Linked DNA regions of Homo sapiens: region 1 is linked to region 2. Evidence: fine-mapped expression QTL. A gene starts in region 2. The other region holds a variant in brackets. All regions are shown on one strand. Distances are from middle to middle. Region 1 overlaps KHDC1 (KH domain containing 1). Region 2 holds the start of KHDC1L (KH domain containing 1 like).

Region 1 (2,801 bases), 24 kb after region 2:
CTTCTCTCTCATCTTCCCTTCTTCCCCCTCCTTCCTCTCTCCCTCCTGGTTTTCTTTCCCTTGTTAGAGAAGACTGCCTTTTCTCAGAGGAAAGACTTAGGGTGAAGTAAACAGAAAGATTTCTTTTTGCCCAGAGGGAAAAATAAGATAGAATATACAATCTGAGAAAATTAGAGTACAGAATGCAATTAAACAGAAAAGAGGGAGTTAACAAGATATCCCAGCCCCTTGGTCAGTGAGGCGAAGCATCAGGTGCAACTTAATCTCCCTCTTCCAAGAGGCTACCTCTTCCACTTGATTCTTTCGAATGAACAAATATTAACCAACAATCCAATCCACTTTCAATTGCTTAATTACTGTTCCTTTTAAGTGCCAACCATCTGACTTTTCCTGTTTCCATCTGTCCTGTGGAGCTATTTGGTATTGCGTATCAGTGTTAATGTCTGAACTTCAAGGGATTTTTTGAAGAAAAAAAATTACAAATAAATTATTACATTCCTGAGGTTTTCTAGTATGGCCTTTATGTTGGGAGTCAAAAAAAAAAAAAAGAAAGAAAGAAAAGGTAAAGTTTCAGAACATTTATAAGTGACACCAGTGTTAACAGGACACTTGGATTTCTACTGAGAAAGCTAATCTTCTAGTTAGCTTTGTGTACATGTTGATAATCACTTTCTCAATTATTAACCCTTGAGTGAAATAAAGAAACCATTTAACTTTTGTGTTAAAGCTTAAAAAATAAAAAAATCCAGCTCACCAGTGTGGTGGCTAACAGGAAGCTGAGGCAGGAGGATTGCTTGAACCCAGGAGTTCAAGGTGTGCTATGATCATGCCATTGCACTCCAGCCGAGGCGACAGAGTGAAACCCAGTCTCTTGAAAAAAAAAATTATATTCAACATTGAAAAAGTATCTCTGAAAAACAACAAAGTACTTATGTACTGGGTAGGGGTGGCTGCCAGCTAGGGCCAGCTGGTGCCGCTGGAAAAATTATTCATGCATAATTATGAAAATAATATTATCCAAAGTACCACATAGGACCACAAATACAGAGTCAGAGATAGTGTGCAGTGAGTTGTCTAATGCTAGTTATGCACAATCTTGGTAACCTCATATTTTAGAGCAATAAAAAAGGCAAGGTTTGCAAGTGTAACACATGGAGTAAGTAATCATCTTTATTTCGTATATTCATGGGAAGCGCACACACACAGGAAGGAGAGGAGCCCTGGTGCTCTTAGCTTTGCCTGTCTCTGCTGGATGTGGACTCACAGAAAGACGGACACATCTGAAACCAAAAGTGTGAATAACTTTCTGATGGTAGAGGGGTTTTTATTTTTGTTTTTATTATTTTGTTTTGTTTTTAGAAACAGGGTCTTGCCCTATTACCCAGTCCAGAGAGTAGTGTC[G/A]TGATCATAGCTCACTGCAGTCTCAAACTCCTGGGCTCAAGTGATCCTCCCGACTCAGCCTCCCAAAGCACTGGCATTACAGGCATGAGACACTGCACCCAGCCTGATGGTAGAGTACTTAAAAAGCAGGAATATGTTAACAAATATGCACTCAAATAAAATATAGTTTCTCTTGCATCCTACATGAGTTTCTCAAGATTCCTTATACTTGAACAAATGATAATCTATGAGAAATTGACAGCTTCAAATGTATGGGTTTCATTTAGCATGGCTTCTCATGTTCCCAGGTCACAAATCCATGTCTTATTCAGTGGCTCTATCACTCTGTCAATCTCTGGCTCACAGTTGCAGTTTTTCAACTCACAGATGATGTCAAAATATAGAAAAATAGAACCCTGTTTAGTGCTGATGGACACTAACTCCTAACATCAATTTAATTCCAGGTGATTAGTTTAAACTAATCATGATAATCTAATTCCCCTGCCAGTGATTGCTTTAGGAAATGGCACATGTCCCAGTTTTGAAATGAAGCAAAACCTAAAGGAGGCTTCCAGCAGAGGTTGTCTCATTTCTGAAGAGAGACACAAAAAAGAACTTGTCTATTCTTACCTTCTCACAGTGTTTATAGCAGGATATGATTTTGGAAATAGCTACAAGTATTTTGCTACCAACCTGAAGAGGAAGCCAACACAAGGTGGAAAGGGAGGCAAACCAAGAAACTGAATTTGAGCCCTTGGCATAATATGCCTGGAATGCCTGCTATTGGCAATAATACAGTGCTTTATTAGCATCCAACTGGACCAGTGTTTCCTGTTATTTGCTGTTCAAATCATGCTACATGATTCTGGTCCCTTTTACATACTACTCTCATTTTGATTGATTGCGCTCAGCAGTGTTCCACTCTCCAAGGAGGGACAATGAACTGTAGGTAGCAATGTTTTATCACATAAAACCTGAAGAGTGAAAAGCACAAAGTTTATCTTGATTATTTTCATTCATAAGCACTTTCCAAGTTACAGAATATTAAGCATCAAATAATTTTTTTTTGAAATCGAGTCTCGCTCTGTTGCCCAGGCTGCAGTGCAGTGGTGCAATCTTGGCTCACTGCAACCTCCACCTCCCGGGTTCAAGGAATTCTCCTGCCTCAGCCTCCCGAGTAGCTGGGATTACAGGTATGCTAATTTTTGTATTTTTAGTAGAGACAGGTTTTGCTATGTTGGCCAGGCTGCTATCGTCAAACTCCTGACCTCAAGCGATCTGCCCGCCTCGGCCTCCCAAAGTTCTGGGATTATAGGCTGAGCCACTGTGCCCAGCCTAGCACCAAATAATTTATAATCAAAATGTATATGCAATAGTTCTGGCCTTATTGAATACCAAAAAATCCTTACCACTTTATCATG
Region 2 (2,801 bases):
ACCTCCACAGTTCGGCCAAGGATACCTACCTCGAGCGTGACACTTGGAGTCCTGGCTCCCCACGCAATGGAACATGAGCAGCAGCCACTGCTTTGCCATTGGTGGTCCGACTACAGTCACACGTGTCTGGCCTGTAGCTGTGAAACACCTCTCCAGCTGAATAAGGGTGTGGCTGTGCAGCTCAATGCAGCGAAGGTACGTGTCATCAAGTCCTGTAAGCACAAGAAGTGAGAAGAGAAACTGTCAGCCACCAGTCCTTGGGGAGTGAGGAGGTGGCCTTGAGGGTAGGGATGTGTGACTCATGAAGGTGGGAGGAGAGGGGAAGATTGAAAATCGAGAAGGGGATGAAGGAGGCCGGCCTAGCGCAGTGACTCATGCCTGTAATCCCAGCAATTTGGGAGGCCGAGGCAGGTAGATCAGTTGAGGTCAGGAGTTCCACACACGCCTGGCTAACATGGTGAAACCCCGTCTCTACTAAAAATACAAAAAATTAGCCGGGCGTGGTGGCAGGCGCCTGTAGTCCCAGCTCCTCGGGAGGCTGCGGCAGGAGAATGGCGTGAACCCGGGAGGCGGAGCTTGCAGTGAGCCGAGATCGCGCCACTGCACTCCAGCCTGGGCGACAGAGATTCCATATCAAAAAAAAAAAAAAAAAAAAAAACACGAGGCCGGGCGCAGTGGCTCACACTTGTATTCCCAGCAGTTTGGGAGGCCGAGGCCGGCAGATCAGGAGGTGAGGAAATCGAGACCATCCTGGCTAACACGGTGAAACCCCATCTCTACTAAAAATACAAAAAAAATTAGCCGGGCGTGATGGCGGGCGCCTGTAGTCCCAGCTGTTCTGGAGGCTGAGGTGAGAGAATGGCGTGAACCCGGGAGGCAGAGCTTGCAGTGAGCCGAGATCGCGCCACTGCACTCCAGCCTGGGCGGCAGAGCAAGACTCCGTCTCGAGTCTCAAAAAAAAAAAAAAAAAAAGTACAAAAACTAGTTAGGCGTGGTGGCAGGCGCCTGTAATCCCAGGTACTCTGCAGGCTGAAGCAGGAGAATCACTTGAACCCAAAAGGCAGACGTTGCAGTGAGCCAAGATCACGAGCGAGAATCTGTCTCAAAAAAATAAAAATAAAAAACAGATGAAGGAGGGGACGTGGGCAAAGGCCACTCACCGAAGATGAGCTCCTCCTGGTCCTCTTCCATGTGGAACACCATTGGAGAATGAAAGTTTTCGGGCAGGGTCCACCACGGCTCCTTGCTGAGAGCACTCGTTCCCACGGCCATGCTGTGCTCCCACCTGATTCAGAATAGGGGAAAGTCTAACAAACTGGTTGGCAAAAGACTTGGAAAAGCGAGGAAGGGCCTAGGCTCTGTCCTTAAAAAGGGTTGTCCTTAATAAGGGTTGTTGGAATCCAAACAACCCGCCCCTTGATCCACCTTAGGGTGGATGTCCAATCCCCGGAGGTCTTCCCAAGATAATTCATTCCAAGTAATTATCTGCTCTGAGCTTAATTCTTTCAAGTCAAACTTAATCATCTGATAAGTGCTTGGCTTTCTGATGTCCTGGAATCAGAAATTTTTCTTCACTCTAAATTCAAAGAATTTTGGAGCAGGGGGTTGAGGGTATGGAGGTGCAGGAAGGCTCCAAATGGGCTCCCTAGATTTGCACAGGTGTCGGCAGCCACCCAGTGACCACACAGTGTATTCCAACACGACTTGGTTTATTTGGTGTGTTGCGTCAAGGGAGAGCAAACAATAGAGGAAAATAAACTTGATAGGATAGTGTCATAGGGAGCCCATTGTAGGAGTTGACTAGGGCAGTCCAAGGCGTGTTTAAGGAGTAGGAGCCAGTTCTCTAAAATGGTGCAATTTGATGATTATTCTGGTAAATTTATCTAGGAAGTTGAGAGACTAATGTGGTCTTCACTGCAGAATGTTATCTCTCTCTGGTTTCAAATATAGTTACAGAATAGACTTTCTATATCTTGTTGCATGACAATCACTGAGCAAACTTGACTGCTTAAAATATTCTTCGGCCGGGTGCAGTGGCTCATGCCTGTAATCCCAGCACTTTGGGAGGCTGAGGTGGGCGGATCAGGAGGGCAGGAGTTCAAGACCAGCCTGACCAACATGCTGAAACCCTGTCTCTACTAAAAATACAAATACATTAGCCGGAGTGTGGTGGTGCACACCTGTAATTCCAGTTACTCAGGAGGCTGCAGCAGGAGAATCGCTTGAAGCCGGGAGGCAGAGGTTGCAGTGAGCCGAGATCGCACCACTGCACTCCAGCCTGAGTGACAGAGCGAGACCCCGTCTCAAAAAAAAAAAAAATTTTGCAGGAGATGTTTGTGTGTGGTAGGGAAGATTCAGCTTGGCCTGTCAGCTTCCCACTGCAAGTTCCTGGGTGATTTTTCACTTTTCATCCTCCTCTTTTGACCAAAGACAAAGTCAGCCATCAGGACTTTCATCTGTGAGGTTCAGATCTACACCACTGTCTGAGTCCACAGATCACAAGGTTATCGGGAGAACATTCTCTGCATCCACATACATTTGGTCTCTCATATACATTTAGTACAAAATATACAAGTGAAAATATAATGACTGCACAGTAGCATTTAAGACTGAACAGGAGGCCAGGCGCTGTGGCTCACGCCTGTAATCCCAGCCCTTTGGGAGGCCGAGGCACGTGGACCACCTGAGGTCAGCAGTTCACCGCCAGCCTGGCCAACATGGTGAAACCTCGTCTCTACTAAAGATACACAAATTACCTGGGCGTGGTTGCGGGCGCCTGTAATGCCAGCTACTCAGGAGGC

Evidence for each region. PIP is the estimated chance that this variant, and not a neighbour inherited with it, causes the effect. A credible set is the group of variants that fine-mapping cannot tell apart.
Region 1: its variant is the best candidate, but not a certain one, in a credible set for the expression of KHDC1L in cerebellar hemisphere (GTEx, PIP 0.76).

The regions. Positions count from the first base shown.
Region 1 is chr6:73,248,410-73,251,210 of GRCh38, forward strand. All of the region lies in intron 1 of KHDC1 (KH domain containing 1), which reads right to left. The region is part of intron 2 of LOC122539213 (KHDC1-KHDC1L); the gene reads right to left. Among named protein-coding and RNA genes, the nearest start is that of KHDC1, 13 kb to the right of the region's middle. The variant G/A (reference allele first, on the strand shown) is at 1,402.
Region 2 is chr6:73,224,137-73,226,937 of GRCh38, forward strand. KHDC1L (KH domain containing 1 like) reads right to left here and starts at 1,360. Exons shown (of 3, transcript NM_001126063.3): 1 at 1,161-1,360; 2 at 30-212. The coding sequence starts at 1,272. LOC122539213 (KHDC1-KHDC1L) reads right to left here. Exons shown (of 7, transcript NR_173146.1): 5 at 1,161-1,285; 6 at 30-212. RefSeq lists enhancers at 1-915, 150-444.